Regions from separate parts of the Homo sapiens genome. Here region 2 is linked to region 1. Evidence: fine-mapped expression QTL. A gene starts in region 1. The other region holds a variant in brackets. All regions are shown on one strand. Distances are between the middles of the regions. Region 1 holds the start of TMEM126A (transmembrane protein 126A). Region 2 overlaps DLG2 (discs large MAGUK scaffold protein 2).

Evidence for each region.
Region 2: its variant is fine-mapped to the expression of TMEM126A in tibial artery (GTEx, PIP above 0.99).

The regions. Positions count from the first base shown.
Region 1 is chr11:85,643,909-85,652,246 of GRCh38, reverse strand. It overlaps TMEM126A (transmembrane protein 126A), which reads right to left and starts at 4,280. Exons shown (of 5, transcript NM_032273.4): 1 at 4,158-4,280; 2 at 1,906-1,998. The coding sequence starts at 1,991. RefSeq lists enhancers at 4,030-4,299, 4,470-4,519.
Region 2 is chr11:85,603,517-85,611,854 of GRCh38, reverse strand. All of the region lies in intron 2 of DLG2 (discs large MAGUK scaffold protein 2), which reads left to right. Among named protein-coding and RNA genes, the nearest start is that of DLG2, 20 kb to the left of the region's middle. RefSeq lists a silencer at 2,303-2,503 and enhancers at 2,917-3,876, 4,619-5,818. The variant C/T (reference allele first, on the strand shown) is at 4,379.

The DNA of each region.
Region 1 (8,338 bases):
TTCCAGGTATTCTTTCTAATTTGGTAAAGAACCCAGTGACAGACTGCTTTCTTCTCTTCAAAGCTGCCACCATCTACTCTTTTTTGAGACAGTCTTGCTCTGTCGCCCAGGCTGGAGTGCAGTGGCATGATCTCAGCTCCATGCAACATCCGCCTCCCAGGTTCAAACAATTCTCGTGCCTCAGCTTCTCCAGTGGGTAGGACTACAGGCACGTGCCCCCACATCTGGCTAATTTTTGTATTTTTAGTAGAGATAGGGTTTCGCCATGTTGGCCAGGCTAGTCTTAAACTCCTGACCTCAGGTGACCAGCCCGCCTCCGCCTCCCAAAGTGCTGGGATTACAGGTGTGAGCCACCATGCCCAGCCTACTACTCTTTTATTAGTCTTTCTCACTTTCCCTATCTTGCTGGCCTGGAAACATGGACATAGTTCCTTTTTTGCTTTAAAAGGTTTTCCGTTACCTCAGGAAAACAACTAGAAGGGAGTGGAGTTGGAGTGTGGGGAGGGGGGGTGAAAGAGCTTTTAAGATCTCACCAAGTTCTTACTACTGGCCTTTTTTTTCTTCCCCTTGGAGATCCTTGTTCTGAACACTACTGGTCTTGATTTATGGGTTCTCCCTGATTAAGATGGTAAGTGGCAGCAAGATGGGGATTTGTTCAGTTTCTATTCCTGAAGATAGCAAGATTATGCTTCCAGAATGTATTTTAAATGCATCCTCTTTTCATCTCAGCTGTCACCACCCCTACCATCTCCACTCACCAGGATTACTGTGCCATTTTTTCTACTGGTATTTGTGTTTCCTTTCTTTCCTACCTCAAATCTGCTTTCCAAAAAGCAGCTGGAATGTTCTTTAGAAATGCTAACATCATCCCCCTGCTCAAAACTATTCCTGGTCCTTACTCCCACTTCCTTAGTACTTCGGTAACAATGGTTACTCAAGTACCACAAGCCTTGGCTATCTTGTGGCTAGGCATATGCCATTCCCTCTACTTAAGACACTGTCCCTCTCTCCTTCCCAGGTGGCTGCTTTTCATCCTTTTATAGTCAGAGAGACCTTCTTGACTGTCAACAAAGTGTAAGACATTTTGTGGAAGTACACATTAGCTGCCTGGCAAAGATTAGTATGTTCCCTATATTGGTTTTTCTCTTTAATATCTTTTTTTTTTTTTTTTTTTTTTGAGACGGATCCTCACTCTTGTCGCCCAGGCTGGGGTGTAGTGGTGTGATCTCGGCTCACTGCAACCTCCGCCTCCCTGGTTCAAGCAATTCTCCTGCCTCAGCCTCCCAAGTAGCTGGGATTACAGGCACCTGCCACCACGCCCAGCTAATTTTTGTACTTTTAGTAGAGATGAGGTTTCACCATGTTGGCCAGGCTGGTCTGAACTCCTGACCTCAGGTGATCTGCCCACCCTGGCCTCCCAAAGTGCTGGGATTACTGGCGTGAGCCACCATGCCTGGCCCTCTTTAATAATATCTTAAAGATCTTTAGCCATGATCCTATTTCTCTGACATTCTCTATCTTGCTATGTGTGTTCTATGGTACTCTTAGACTGGTAAGCATACTGACAGAATGAACTGGGAAAAAAAAGACATTTTAAAAGTTAAAGTTTTGTTATTTAAATGGGTCTGTAAATGTTTACATTTTACTATACTCCAAGCCTAATGGAAAAACTCAAAACATTATACAATTAGGTATGTCCAAAGACATGAGTTCCAGCCTCACCTTCCACAATTAGCTATGTGATGTTGAGCAAAATGGTTAAACGCTCTCATCCAGGCAAGAAAAGGGCAATTTCCTTCTCACATTCCATGTTGTTTATACTCAAACCAGATAAACTTGAGATAATGAATCAATGGTGAAAATCCACCTGATAAAAGGTGTTTTTAAATTAAGAAGGGATCTTACCTTTCTGCTTCTGGAAGCTGGTTAATTTTTCTGGATATATCAACAATTGTTATGTTTTCCTTATTATTGGATTTATGATTTTCCATTTTGAGCCTTAAAAAACATGAAGATATCATTTCTCAAGAATTTATACAAAGAATTTTAAAAACCTTCTGAAGACTAAAAATAATACTGTAGAGCTAATCTGAAAAAAATCATTGCATACATATTATTAAAAAAAAATCTAAGTGAAACAGAAACCAGAACATGAAAAGCAACACATAAAGCTTTTAGGAAATACAGAATATCTTCATAATCCTTGAAAGTATTTCCTAAACAATTCACAAATAGCACTAAACATAAAAGACTTATAAAACTAACAGTATTGAAGTTAAGAACCTATGGTTATCAACATATACCATAAAGATAAGCTAGTGGGGGAGAAAATGCAATAGAACTGACAAAAGAGTAGTTAGTACCCAGAACATACATGGAACTACATATCAACATGAAAAAGGTAAGCAGCCCTACGGAAAAACTGACAAAATATTTGAACAGGCACTTCACAAAAAGGAAAGTTAAATGGCCAATAAACATGAAAATATGCTCACCTTCATTATAACTGGGGGAACAACCCACAGTGAGATACCAATAGGTACCCATAGGTTAGCTAAAATCAAAATCTGACAATTCCAATTATTGGCAAGAATGCGGGGTAGCTAAAACTACATTCTGTGTACATTCTGTGGGGTAGCTTTACCCAAACTGTACAGTCACTTTGGGAAAGAATTTGGTATTATTTAGCAGATAGAAGACACACATAGCTAGCAATTTCATTTCTAGGTATACCTGAGATCAGGGCTCAGCAAACTTTAAAGGGCCAGATGTAAATGTGGTAGGCTTTGCAGGTAACATACAGCCTTTGTTGAATATTTGTTTTTAAAAAAACTATAAAAACATAAAAATCATTCTTAGCTGGGTGGCTGTACCAAGGCAAGCTATAGGCTGCATATGGCCTACATGCCAGTAGTTTGTTGATGTCTGCACTAGTTAGGGTGAAAATGTGAAGGGAATGGTGAATGATGAAGATTTGGCTCAGGTTTCAGGGTAACAGTTAAGAAAAACAAAGGCTGGATGCAGTGGCTCACGCCTGTAATCCCAGCACCTTGGGAGGCCAAGGCAGACGGATCACCTGAGGTCAGGAGTTCGAGACCAGCCTGGCCAACATGGTGAAACTCCCTGTCTTTTAAAAATACAAAAATTAGCCAGGCACGGCGGCAGCTGCCTGTAATCCCAGCTACTCGGGAGGCTGAGGCAGGAGAATCGCTTGAACCTGGGAGGTGGAGGTTGCAGTGTGCCGAGATCTCGCCACTGCACTCCAGCCTGGGTGAGAGCGAGACTCGGTCTACAAAAAAAAAAAAAAAAACAGTTCAGGGATAACAACAAAGGAAAACATGCTTTTATGAAACCAGATTTTCTCATTTCCTACAACATTACAGGCACTCGTTTAAATATTTATTGCTACCTGTTTTATATCGATAAGAGGTCATTTGGAAATGTTGATTACCTTGACATTCCATATCTCTAGACTTAAAGCTAACCTAATAAGTACAAAGCAGCCTTAGAAATTTATGTCTAGGTTTCTGGTAGTCAAATTTTTGAGGGCCTTGGCTACGATAAGATGATAAGACACAATCTCTGCTGTACAGGAGCTCTGAATGATTTTGTGTATGGGGTGGTGAAATATATAATCAAATTTAGTATGTATATATTGTACTGAGGGCAATTAAGTCACTCAATTCAGTATAAGTGCTGACTGGGCAGCCCCTGTGGGCATTTTGTCTCCGATATTAATAACAAATATCTATCAAAGACAACGCCGCCTGTAAAAACTACAAATATTTCGAAAGATTTTTGTGTTACCTATCTCATGTCATTCTTGGAAGAGCTCTGAGAGATAGGCAGTGTGGGGCCTATCTGAAAGAGAAGTAAAGTGGGACCTCTGAAAATCAAATTTGGCCGTGGTCACCTTGTAAATTGACAGTAAACCTGGGATTAAATTCAATCTCAGGCATTTCTCCTTTCTACTGAGTTAATTTAAATATAAGGTCTTTCCTTCTAGAGTGCAAAGTGAAAAGACAGCAGGAAGAGCTAACTACACTTCTACTTGCTCTCATTTACGCGCAGCGCTGCTGGTAGCTAGCGTGTCACCGCGTCGTGCTTCTCCTGACACCGGGACATTTACTTCACCCCCTCCCCCGGAATACCAGTACCTTATGCTCTCCTCCCAGCAGCCTGTGGGTGCCTCCTCCTTCCTCAGCCACGCCGGAGTTCACTGTGGCCTTTGCTCAAATTACCTGGGCGCAGCCATCTTTGGCTGACTCGTGACGCGGCGTGGGCGGGCGCCGGGTCGCGGCTGCTAATTGGACTGCGGGACGGAGGTTGCAGCCAGCAGCGGCTTTGGGCTGAGAAGCTTCCGGCCCTAGGAGGTGCCGGGAGGCTAAGCGTTGAGGTTTGTTTGCCTGGCGTAGAGTGTGCTCGTTTCACCTACTCTTGCCTCCCAGGACAGAACTTGTAGAAATTGTGAAATTTCGAGATATAAGTTGGGTGACCCTCAGTCAGCCTCTTCCATTGAAAACGTACCTCGGGCATATTACTTAACTTCCTGGTCAGTAGAGCCTACTTACGTTCTTGGCATGGGGTAAATGAAAACTGCACAGCTCTTGGCATATGATAGCTACTCAGGTTAAAAATAAGTCAAAGGTGAGCTATTTCTTGGCTCTATCGATTTTCTACTCTCCCTAGGAACTTAAGCTCCCTGTGCCATGTTTTGATCTGTATTGATTGCCCTACCATAATCAGCACCTCAGAGCTGCAGCTTATTTTTCTGAGGATTTCTCGTGTTCTCCAGAGTACTGCTTATTTGGAAGCAGTGTTGGGTGAAAGTCATCTTATTTCTTCTTGCTTTTTAAGTATAAATACTAGAAAATTTAGAATTATATATGTGGCTTGCATTATATTTCTATTGGACAGTGCTGTTCAGAAGGTACCTCTAATGCTCTCCTCCCAGCAGCCAGTGGATGCCTCACCAGGTCTTCCTCAGCCATGCTGGGGCTCCCTGCAACCTTTGCTCAGTTCGCTTGGACTAATTAACCCAATAGAAGGGAAAAATGCCTACAATTGAATTTTATCTTAACTCCATTAAGATTAGCAGGTAAACATTGTGCCAAAAAATATATAACTAACTGTAGCAATAAATACATGATCATAACACATTATCAGAAATCTTAATTATTCTCATCCTCTCAAATTTCTGAACAAGTGATAAAGTGTTGCATTGTCCAGATAATTTTTATACTGTCTCTCCATTGCAGGGTTGCTTGACCATTAGGCTCCATAGTGCCAAGAAGTCTGTAATTGCAGTTTCTAAACTTGCACAAATAGAAAGACTTATTTTCACGAAGGTGTACAAGAAGGAAAATTCCTAGTCTTTTTTTTATTTTTATTTTTTATTTTTTAGACAGAGTTTTGCTCTCGTCGGCCAGGCTGGAGTGCAATGGCCTGATCTCAGCTCATTGCAACTTCTGCCTTCCAGGTTCAAGCGATTCTCCTGCTTCAGCCTCCAGAGTAGCTGGGATTACAGGCGTGTGCCACCACGCCCAGCTGATCAGCTGATTTTTTTTTTTGTTTTTGAGACTGAGTCTCGTTCTGTCACCCAGGCTGGAGTGTAGTGGTGTGATTTCGGCTCACTGCAAGCCCCGCCTCCTGGGTTCACAGCATTCTCCTGCCTCAGCCTCCCAAGTAGCTGGGACTACAGGCTCCTGCCACCACGCCTGGCTAATTTTTTTGTATTTCTAGTAGAGACGGGGTTTCACTGTGTTAGCCGGGATGGTCTCTATCTCCTGACCTCGTGATCCACCCGCCTCGGCCTCCCAAAGTGCTGGGATAACAGGCGTGAGCCACCGTGCCCAGCCTCGGCTTATTTTTTAGTAAAGACAGGATTTCACCACGTTAGCCAGGCTGGTCTCGAACTCCTGACCTCAGGTGATCCACCCGCCTCGGTCTCCCAAAGTGCAGGGATTACAGGCGTGAACCAGCGTGCCTGGTCATCTAGTCTTTTACTCACTTTGCTTTTCATCTCAAGGTTTTAAGCAAACAAATCACAATATTCTGCTTACTACCTTTGCCTTAATGGAATTTCACTAGGCCTTCTCTGTAACTGTCTGTGTTTCCTAATTATGTAGAAACTATAAACCACCATCTTGTAGAGAATAATGGCCAATAAGGTTGAAAAGTTAAAAAAAAAAAAAAAAAAGAGCCAGAGTGTGGAATACTTCAAATGCCAGACTAAGAATTTGCTCCCTTTTGTTTGCTTTATTTTCTGGGAAACGTTAGTTATTAAAAATGGGAGTTAAAAAATTCATAGTTACACTATGATAAGATGCATATGATGTAGAAAAAAATGGAGGCAATACTGCAGATGGAGATTAGATAGGTGCCTCTAAATAAAAATCTCAAGGACATCTCATACTCCAAAGCTGAAAATCGTATATGTTTTCCTCTCTTATATCTACTGTTTCCTGTCTCAGGGCTTGACAACACCATCCATTTCATTGCACAAGCCAGAAACTTAAGTTCATCCACATTACTCCCTGCAGACTAATCAATCGTGAACAATTTATTGATTTTCTTCCTAGATATTCTTTACAGAAATCATTTCTTATTTAGGCACTGGAGGTGACTCTGTTCTCACAGATTCCACTCATCTTCCTTTCAGCAATTCTCTACATAGCATCTATGAAAATTTTTGTCAGACAATTTAGCTGAACTTGGGCTGTGCATGGAAGAGAGGGGATAGAAATGTAGCCAGAAATCTGCAATGTCTATGATGCTTGCACCAGACAACCGTAAGCTCTTTTTGGAAACAGGAAATAAAGAACAATTTGTCAAAGCATATTTTTCTGTCACTAAAAATACATGCCATTCTTTTGATTTTAAAAGTTTTGAGAAATGCCGAAAGAGAAAAGATAATTTAGTTTCTTATAGCTTGTCTGAACTCTCTAACAACAGAATATTGGCACATAAAATAGTTAATAAAAGAAAATGGAATTTGACCACTTGTCACTACCTTTATTGCTACTACTTATTATCTCTTACCTAGACTGTCTATAAAATCCTGTGTCACACAGAAAAATTGCTGGGATATGGCTTTGACTTAAATGCTGCATGAATCTGCTGAAAATAGTTGATCCAGGAAGATTCCATACTTTTCAAAGATAATAATCAAAAAATAAAAGAGGGACTTCTAGCTTCTGGAAGTGACACAGTAGCTTATGTTGGACAGACCCTGTTGCAAATAACAACTATAAACTCTGGACAAGGAAGAGATTCTTTTCAAAGACCCTGGAAAGCAACCAAAATAGCATGAAAACACAGGAAGGTATACAATTCTTGAAAGATGGGAAAAATAGTGGGTAAGATCCACATTTATCCAGCTTTTTTTCATGAGGGCATTAGTCTGTGCAGTACATGGGGAATATCGAGTGTCAGTATAAAGCAGCATTCTTCCCATTCTAAAACACTCAGAAGTTGAAATTTGGAAATGCCAGATCAACTGAAAATTGGGGCAGGAACCTTGAAAAGGGAACCCCAAAATCTGTCTAAAAAATCCCCTCAAATTTTTGGCTGACATTATAACAGTACATGCATGTGGTAAGACCCAAAGAACCCAATGGACAGCAACAGTTGGAAGACTGGAAGAGATAAAGTGAAATTTCAGCAGTCATCTGATGCTGGGAAGACAGTGTATTTTTGAATATTTAAATTCAAATATCGGAAATTTAAATATTTCCAAGTTATACAGACCGGGTGAAAACTTTGGACATTCCACTGAGCAGCATCTTAGAATTAATGACTACATCCAATGACTAAGGGTTATGCCCTAGAATCAAGGGCAAAATCAACCAAATCAATATTTTTTTAAAAAAATCAAATTAAGCAAAAAGGAAATCAAAGAGGAAGGAATAATAAAGGTAAGAGTGGAAATAAATGAAAGGGAAAAGACAAAAACAATAGAGAAAAGACCAACTGTGATTCTTTGAAAATATTAATAAAATCAATAAGCCCTAATAAGACTAATCAAAAGAAAAAGAGACCAAACAACTAAATCTTTTTGGACTGAAAGAAGGGACATTAATACAGATTCTACACACATTAACAGGATAAGGAGAGGATATTATGAACAACTTTAACCCACTGTGTTCGACAATTTAGACAAAATGGACAAATTGCTTGGTCTTATTGTTAATTGCTTATCTGGAGAGTTACAATTTATTTTTTCTTTTACATTTTATAACCTACAACCTTGCTAAATCAAATAGGATTTTAAAAATTACATAGATAATTTTATTTCTTCTTTTCCAATCTGGCTAGACTCTCCCATACAATGTTGGCT
Region 2 (8,338 bases), 40 kb after region 1:
TGGCTTCGACAGTGTAAGACTGCCACCCCCTTGGGTTTTTGCACTGAGTGCAATAACTCCATGATTTCCTTGTGGTATTTAATGGGGGTTCCCCCAGAGGTTAGGAACTCCCTTTCTTTCCATATTGTAGCATAGGCATGTAGGATTAGATAAGCATATCTGCTATCTGTATACACATTTATTCTTTTTCCCTTTCCCAGTTATAAGGCTCGGGTAAGTGCCACTAGTTCTGCTAACTGGGCACTGGTCCCTGGGGGAAGAGGTTTACTTTCAAGTACGGTTACATCATTAACTATGGCATAACCTGCCCGTAGTATCCCATTCTCCACAAATGAACTTCCATCAGTCTAAGTGGACTTCTAAGAGATCATCTCGGGCGGCATAAGTTTGGACTATAAGTTTGGCAGTCATGCTGATTGGTTCCCCATCCTCTGGGAGAAAAGTGGCAGGGTTGAGGGCTGCACACATAGGTATTTGAAGCACCGGTCCTTCAAGGAGTAGTGCCTGGTATCTAAGTAGGCAGTTGTCTGATAGCCATAAACTTCCTTTGGCACCTAGTATGCCATTTACATCATGAGTAGTCCAGACAGTGAGATCTTTTCCTTGTATTATCTTGATAGCCTCTGACACTAAGATGGCCACTGCCACAACTACCCTTAAACAGTGAGGCCAGCCTTTTGCTACTACATCAATTTTCTTACTTAGGTATGCCACTGGTTGGGGGTTCATCCCATGAGCCTGCGTAAGGACTCCAAGAGCTATCCCTGCTGTCTCTGTGACATATAGAGATAAGTTTTGTCCTGTGGGAAGGCTTAAAGCTGGAGTTGTACTAGGGCCCGCTTTAAGGTTTTGAAGGCTGTTTCTGACCCTGGTTCTCATTCTACTAGATGAGTATTTGCCCTCTGGGGCTCCTTGATTAGAGTATAGAGTGGTCTGGCCATCTCGCTGTATCCGGGGATCCATAGTCGGCAAAAGCCCGTGATTCCAAGGAACCCCTGCAACTGTTTTAATGTCTTAGGGTGATGATAAGCCAGTATAGGCTGTATTCATTCCTTGCTGAGGGCCCTGGCCCCTCTGGCTAAGATTAAGCCTAGATATTCGACCTGCTGTAGGCAAAGCTGGGCCTTTGACCTAGATGCCTTGTACCCTTGATTAGCTAGAAAGTTCAAGAGATCTAGAGTAGCCTGTTGGCATGAGGCTTCCAAACTGGTAGCCAAAGGTAAATCATCCACATACTGAAGGGCCAGAGTGCCTGAACTTGAGAAGTGGCCTAGATCTTGGGCCAGTGCCTGACCAAACAGGTAAGGGCTATCCCTAAACCCGTGGGGCAAGATCGTCTGTGTAAGTTGGGATGTGTGGTCTGTGGGGTCCTCACAGGCAAAGAGAAACTGGGAGTCAGAGTGCAGGGGAATACAGAAGAAGGCATCCTTGAGGTCCAGAACAGTGAACCATTCTGCTTCCTCTGATATTTGAGAGAGCAGGGTATAGGGGTTGGGTACAACTGGATATAGAGGAATTATTGCCTTATTGATGAGTCCAAGATCTTGCACTAGTCTCCACTGACCATTCAGTTTTTGTACTCCTAGAATTGGGGTGTTGCAGTCACTGCTGCATTTCCTTACTAAGCCTTGAGCTTTTAAATGTTTAACAATATCTTGTAATCCTTTATGAGCTTCAGGCCTTAAGGGATGTTACCTTTGATAAGGAAAAGTGGTGGGATCTTTTAGCCTGATTTGGACTGGGCGGGCATTTTTTTCCTTCCAAATTATCCTTCCAATGCCCAGACTTCAGGGTTGATTCCCTTCTCAAGTAGGGGACAACAAATGGATAACTTGTTCCCCATATTCATGTAAATAATAGCTCCAGCTTTGGCTAATATATCCCTCCCTAATAAGGGTGTGGGACTTTCAGGCATAACAAGAAAGGCATGTGAAGAGAGCAAAGTCTCCCAATTACAACTGAGGAGGTGGGAGAAATACCTGGTTACAGACTGTCCCAGGATTCCCCGGATGGTAACGGACCTTGAGGACAGTCGTCTGGGACAGGAGATTAACACTGAGAAGGCCGCACCAGTGTCCAGGAGGAAGTCAATTTCCTGGCCCTCAATGGTTAAACGTATCCGGGGCTCAGTGAGGGTGATAACATGAGCTGGTGCTTGCCCCAGGCACCCTCAGTCCTGTTGTTGGGTCTTCTTATTGGGGGTTACTGGCCCAGAGAACCTCTGCACTCTGTGGCAGTGCACCTTCCAGTGATTGCCTCAGCATAGCAGACATGGACGAGGGGGCAGCTTGTTTCTCATTGGACAATCTTTTTTAAAGTGTCCTTGTAAACCACACTGATAACAAGCCCTACCGAGTGATTGGCCTGCTCCATTTTCTGACCTCTTTGAACCACCAAAGTTTGTTTGTCTGAGGGCCATGACTAAGGCTGTGGTCTTTCTCTGATTTCACTTTTCCTTTTGGGCCTGTTCCTCTTGGTCCCTATTATAGAACACTGAGGTTGCCTGGTTTAATAATGCCTCCAGATTTTGTTCAGGGCCCAGGGCTTGCTTTTGGAGCTTTCTCCTGATATCTGCAGCTGATTGGGTAATAAATGTATCTTTTAGAATCAATTGACCCCGTAGTGAGTTGGGTGACAGGGGAGTATATTTTCTTAAGGCCTCCCGTAGCCACTTGAGGAAGGCAGAAGGATTTTCTTCCTTTCCCTGAGTTATGGTGGACATCATTGAGTAATTCATGGGCTTTTTCCTAATTCTCCTTAGTCCTTCTAGAACACAGGTCAACAGATGTTTATGACTCCAGTCCCCATGATCTGAGTCAGGGTCCCAGTGGGGATCCATACTGGGGATGGCTTGCTGGTCAGTAGGGAATTTGTCCCTTTCCTCAGCTGTCATTCTATCATTTACTTGACTGAGATACCAGGTATCTCCAAACTCTCATGCTGCAGCTAAAGCCACATTCTTTTCATTAAAGGCCAGGGTTTGAGCTAACAATAGCATGACATCTCTCCAAAAGAGATTGAAGGTTTGCCCTAGACCCTGTAGGACATCTATGTACCTATCAGGACCATCTGAAAACTTCACCAGGTCTGCCTTGATCTGCTTTAAATCAGAGAGGGAGAAAGGGTCATGTACCTGGGTGGGGCCAAATTCCCCACCCCCTACAGCTTGAAGGGGACAAAACTGACAGCCTGGGGGGTTTTGTGGTCCTTTGGAGATTTCTTTGCTTATTTCCTTCTGGGCCGGGGAGATTAGAGGAGGCTTATCCTTAATGGGAAGGGGAGCTGTAGGGAGGCTAGGATATGAGGGTAAGCTGAAAGATCCTCCTGTGGGATGTAAATTGCAAGCTTTGCATAGTTATGTATTCTCCTTCAATGAAAAGAAAGCATGGACGTAAGGTATTTCACTCCATTTGCATTCCATCTTACAGAAAAGGTCAAACTGCAGGATAGTATTGTAAGTTATACTTCCCTCAGGTGGCCATTTTTCCCCATCAGAGAGAGAGAGAGAATAATGGGGCCAGACCATAGTGCAGAAAAAAATGAGCCACCTCTTTTTCAGGGTTTTTGGGTCAAATTGGTCCCAATGGCTTAGGATGCATTTCAAGGGTGAGCCTTTTGATGCCTGAGTGTTTCCCATCTGAAAGACAAAACCACCCATGGTTTTGGTTTGTTTCTCCCCATGCCCAAGAACCCACAACGGTCCCTGGACCCTGCTAATCAGAATAGTTGTGCTCACCGCCACAGCAGCAGAAACACTAGTTTTCCTCCTAGACCACAAGGAGGACCAAGGAAGGTCGGATTTAGTGGCCCTTACTGATGCATTCTCGAAAACCTGCACCCTTGCCTGTCCTCCTAGACCACAAAGAGGACCGAGAAAAATCCAATGTAGTCACCTTTACTGAAGCATTGTCGAAAACTTGTTAGAGTCCTAAGCATTCTTCTGTTAGTATTGGGATTTTACCCATGTCCTATAAAGATGTTATGCCCCAAAAATTAAGTGGAGGGCCATACCCTGAGGGAGGGGAGGGATCTCCAGAATTGGAAGACTGATGCCTTTTATCTTCACTTATATGAATAGGAAGGATACAATTTCTGAGGCTCCCCATATCCTAGCTGTAGGAATAGCCTTTATTAGGCCTGCTTGTCTGAGGAGGGATCCTAAAATTCCAGATAGTCTCCCCTATGACGGGGCTTTGGGCAAAAATTATGTCTTTTTGATTGGTGAGCCCAGGTGCCAAAAGAAGGTAACAGAGTCCTGGAGTTTATACTAGAAATCATTCTTATAGGAGAAACTAGAAAAGCACCAGAGAGAGCGAGTGGTTTTTATAAGCGGGACTAGCCTTGGAGAAGACAGGTGAGAGGAAGTTTATCTGGCAGG[C/T]GTTAGGACCCGGGGGCAAGGATCAAGATAGATGGATGAGTCTTGCTTGGGCGACATGACTTTGAGTTTCACTCATGGCTGCAGGGTCAACCAACTTGTTGTCGGGACCCTGGAGTTGAATGACTTTCCCCTCTGTCGACCCTTGGCTCAGCCCAGAAGTACGGGAAATGCAGAAGCTGGTTCCAGGCAAACCAATGCTCCCAACTCTGAAGAGTCGGGGTTTGTTAGAGAGCCCTTTCCCAGAAAGCCTGACACCCGTGTCTTTAGTCCGGCGGCTGTGCTAGTCACTTTTAACTGGCCAATAGGTGTCTGGTATTTAGCCCCTGAATTCTAAGGAAAAATAGGACAGAATAGCAAGTGAAAGTGGTCCAATGGTACTCACCACTTGGCGATAGGCGATAATCTCACTGCTTGGCGAAAGGTGATGGTCCCTTCATGGTCGCCAAAATGTGTCCAGAATTGGTGGGTTCTTTGTCTCTCTGACTTCAAGAATGAAGCTGTGGACCCTCGTGGTGAGTGTTACAGTTCTTAAAGATGGTGTGTCCAGAGTTTGTTCCTTCTGATGTTTGGATGTGTCCAGAGTTTCTTCCTTCTGGTGGGTTCATGGTCTTGCTGACTTTAGGAGTGAAGCTGCAGACCTTTGCGGTGAGTGTTACAGCTCTTAAAGGTGGCGCGTCTGGAGTTATTTATTCCTCCTGGTGGGTTTATGGTCTCGCTGACTTCAGGAGTGAAGCTGCAGACCTTCGCAGTGAGTGTTATAGCTCATAAAGGCGGCGCAGACCCAAAGAGTGAGCAGCAGCAAGATTTATTGTGAAGAGCGAAAGAACAAAGCTTCCACAGTGTGGAAGGGGACCTGAGCAGGTTGCTGCTGCTGGCTCAGGTGGCCTGCTTTTATTCCCTTATTTGGCCCCACCCACATCCTGCTGATTGGTCCATTTTACAGAGAGCTGCTTGGTCCATTTTATAGAGTGCTGATTGGTCCGTTTTACAGAGTGCTGATTGATCCGTTTTTACCAAGTGCTGATTGGTGCATTAACAAACCTTTAGCTAGACACAGAGCACTGATTGGTGCATTTACAATCCTTTAGCTAGACACAGAGCACTGATTGGTGCATTTACAATCCTTTAGTTAGACAGAAAAGTTCTCCAAGTCCCCACCTGACCCAGAAGCCAGCCGGCTTCACCTCTCACTTTCATTTTCTAGTCCTAATGTCTAATAAGTAATGATAAAATTGTGATCATTCAATTTTGTATATATTTAAAATATGAAAAATGTCTAATTGTTATTGCTTGTTTTAATGGATACATATCATACTATAGTTAATCGTTCTAAATCTAAAAAATGGTCATATTCCTCTTCAGTTAAAAATCTTCCATGACTTGACATTCTACCCTTGGTATAAGGCCAAACTTGTTAACATTGTACGTATGCCATCAACTTAATTCTCTACTCCCATGGTACCTGGTACCTTATGATACCATTCTTTTTTTTTTTCTTTGAGACAGAATCTCTGTCTGTCACCCATGCTGGAGTGCAGTGGCACGATCTCAGCTCACTTCAACCTCCGCCTCCCGGGTTCAAGTGATTTCCTGCCTCAGCCTCCCAAGTAGCTGGGATTACAGGCACCCGCAACCATGTCCAGCTAATTTTTGCATTTTTAGTAGAGACGGGGTTTCACCATGTTGGTCAGGCTGGTCTCGATCTCCTGACCTCAGGTGATCTGCCTGCCTTGGCATCCCAAAGTGCTGGTATTACAGGCGTGAGCCACCGCTCCCAGCCGTGATAGCATTCTTATACTCTGTTTTAATCTTTCACTTTGTTGGAATTTCCTAGTTAATTATCTTTATTTTGAGACTAAAATCTCTGTGAGGGTAGACTATTGCCTATTTTGTTCAGTACTGTGTTCCCAGTGTCTGGATATAGTAAGATAGTCAATAAATACTTGATTAATGGCTGAAATAACCTTTTTCTCTATCTACCAGACTTATAAAGGTAGGACCATTTTTATTTATATGTTACAAATACAAATTAAAAGACTAAATTTGAACATTTGTGATTCAACATTTAACCCTAGATTCTAAAATTCAGTGATACGATTTATGTCTGATTGGTCAAGTTTTATTTTATTTTTTCCATAAAAATATGCTCATCTCCATTTCTGGAGGATTAAGGGTGGTATTGTGGAGAGAACACTATACTTGGAATCAAAAGCTTTTGGATTAAGCTCCAAATCTGTTATTTAGTAGCTGTGTGATCTTGGACAAGCCACTCTGAGTTTCAGTTTCATGTAAAATAGGTATGACTTCTCAGTGGTGAGAATCAGATAAGATAATGCATTTAAAAGTTCTTTTTAAACTGTAAAAATGTTGAATAGATTTATGTAAAATAATTTCACTATTCTAAATGCTTTATTTTCCAAAATTTGCCTGTTAAATTCACCTTTTCTCTATTATACTTTGATCTGAGTTTTCCTAATGATACCACTGTATGTTCTGTAATTCTTCATTTTTTAAGCCATGGCAAATGATTTTATGTATCATCATTTTCTTTTCTCTAAAAGTTCATTTGTTAGCACTATTGCCAATCACTGTTTCAAATTTAAATTACCTGTCCCAAATTATTTATAACTTTCTGGTGATGCTATTCTTAAACCATGTACAATATAGAGTTGAACCTTAATTAACAGACACATGATTACCTACAGTTCTAATTATGTAACATTCACTATCCCTTGGTTGCATATTTCATGCAAAAATTTCTTATTTTAAAAAGTGATTCTCCCTTCCCCCCCATTTCCTCCTGTGCCTGCCCTCAAGTAATCCAAATTTAGCTTTTTTTTTTTCCTGTAGACTCAGGAGTCTTATGAAGGTAGAGTTTAATGAAGAAAACAGGAGAATTGAGGCAATTTAGATGAAAAATTCTCCACTTGGTTATTTGAACATCAATTAAAATATGAATCTTGACTTGCTTGGATAATTATCTCAGCTTTCCACTTTATTCAATTTATGGAGATTAGGTTAGGGATTTTTAATTTGTATGAAAAGATCCTTGCCATTTGTCTCATTTGTTTAATTTGTCATTTTTAGATTACCTTCAAACTTTCATTAACCAGAAATAAGGATTTGAGTAGAGAGAGTTGAAGAGCATAATAGAATTGACTCCAGGTGATGATCATTCTCAATAATCAAAAGCAGCATAAAAGGGCAGCCACAATTCCAGCCCTAGATGCTGGTGTGTGAAAGCCTAACTTGGAGACTTGATTATATACGACCTTTTAAAAATATTTTAGCATTTTTTATGTGTCAAATTTTTATCCTACAGCGATGAGAGGCATAGTAAGCTCTGCTGGTTTAGAAAACATCTAGCTGTTTTGAATCAATACAGTATTTTCCCTTTATAGTTATTGGATAAATATATGCTAAATGAGTGAGTGAAATTCCCCTTACTTATCTAATTATATTTGTAGATGTGATTGTGGGAATATTGTTAATACATTTTTGAGAATTGCTCTTAATTTTACTTATTTACTTAGAGACAGGGTATTTTACTTATTTATTTAGAGACAGGGTCTCACTCTGTAGCCCAGGCTGGAGTGCAGTAGCAGGATGGTGGCCCACTGAAGCCTCGAACTCCTGGGCTTAAATGATCCTCCCATCTCAGCCTTCTGAGTAGCTGGGAGTGCAGACGTGCACCACCACACCTGGCTAATTTTAAAATTTTGTTGTAGAGAAAGGGTTTTGCTCTGTTGCCCAGGCTGGTCTCGAACTCCCGGTCTCAAGCCATCCTTCCACCTTGGCCACCCAAAGTGCTGGAATTATAGGTGTGAGCCACCGTGCCTGGCCAAGAATTGCCCTTTAAAAGAATAAACGACTAGGGTAATACCTACAACAATGCCACAGAAGCTTAAAAAAAAAGGCTTTAGTTATAATTGTATTAAAAAAAAAAAGAGAGAGAAAAGA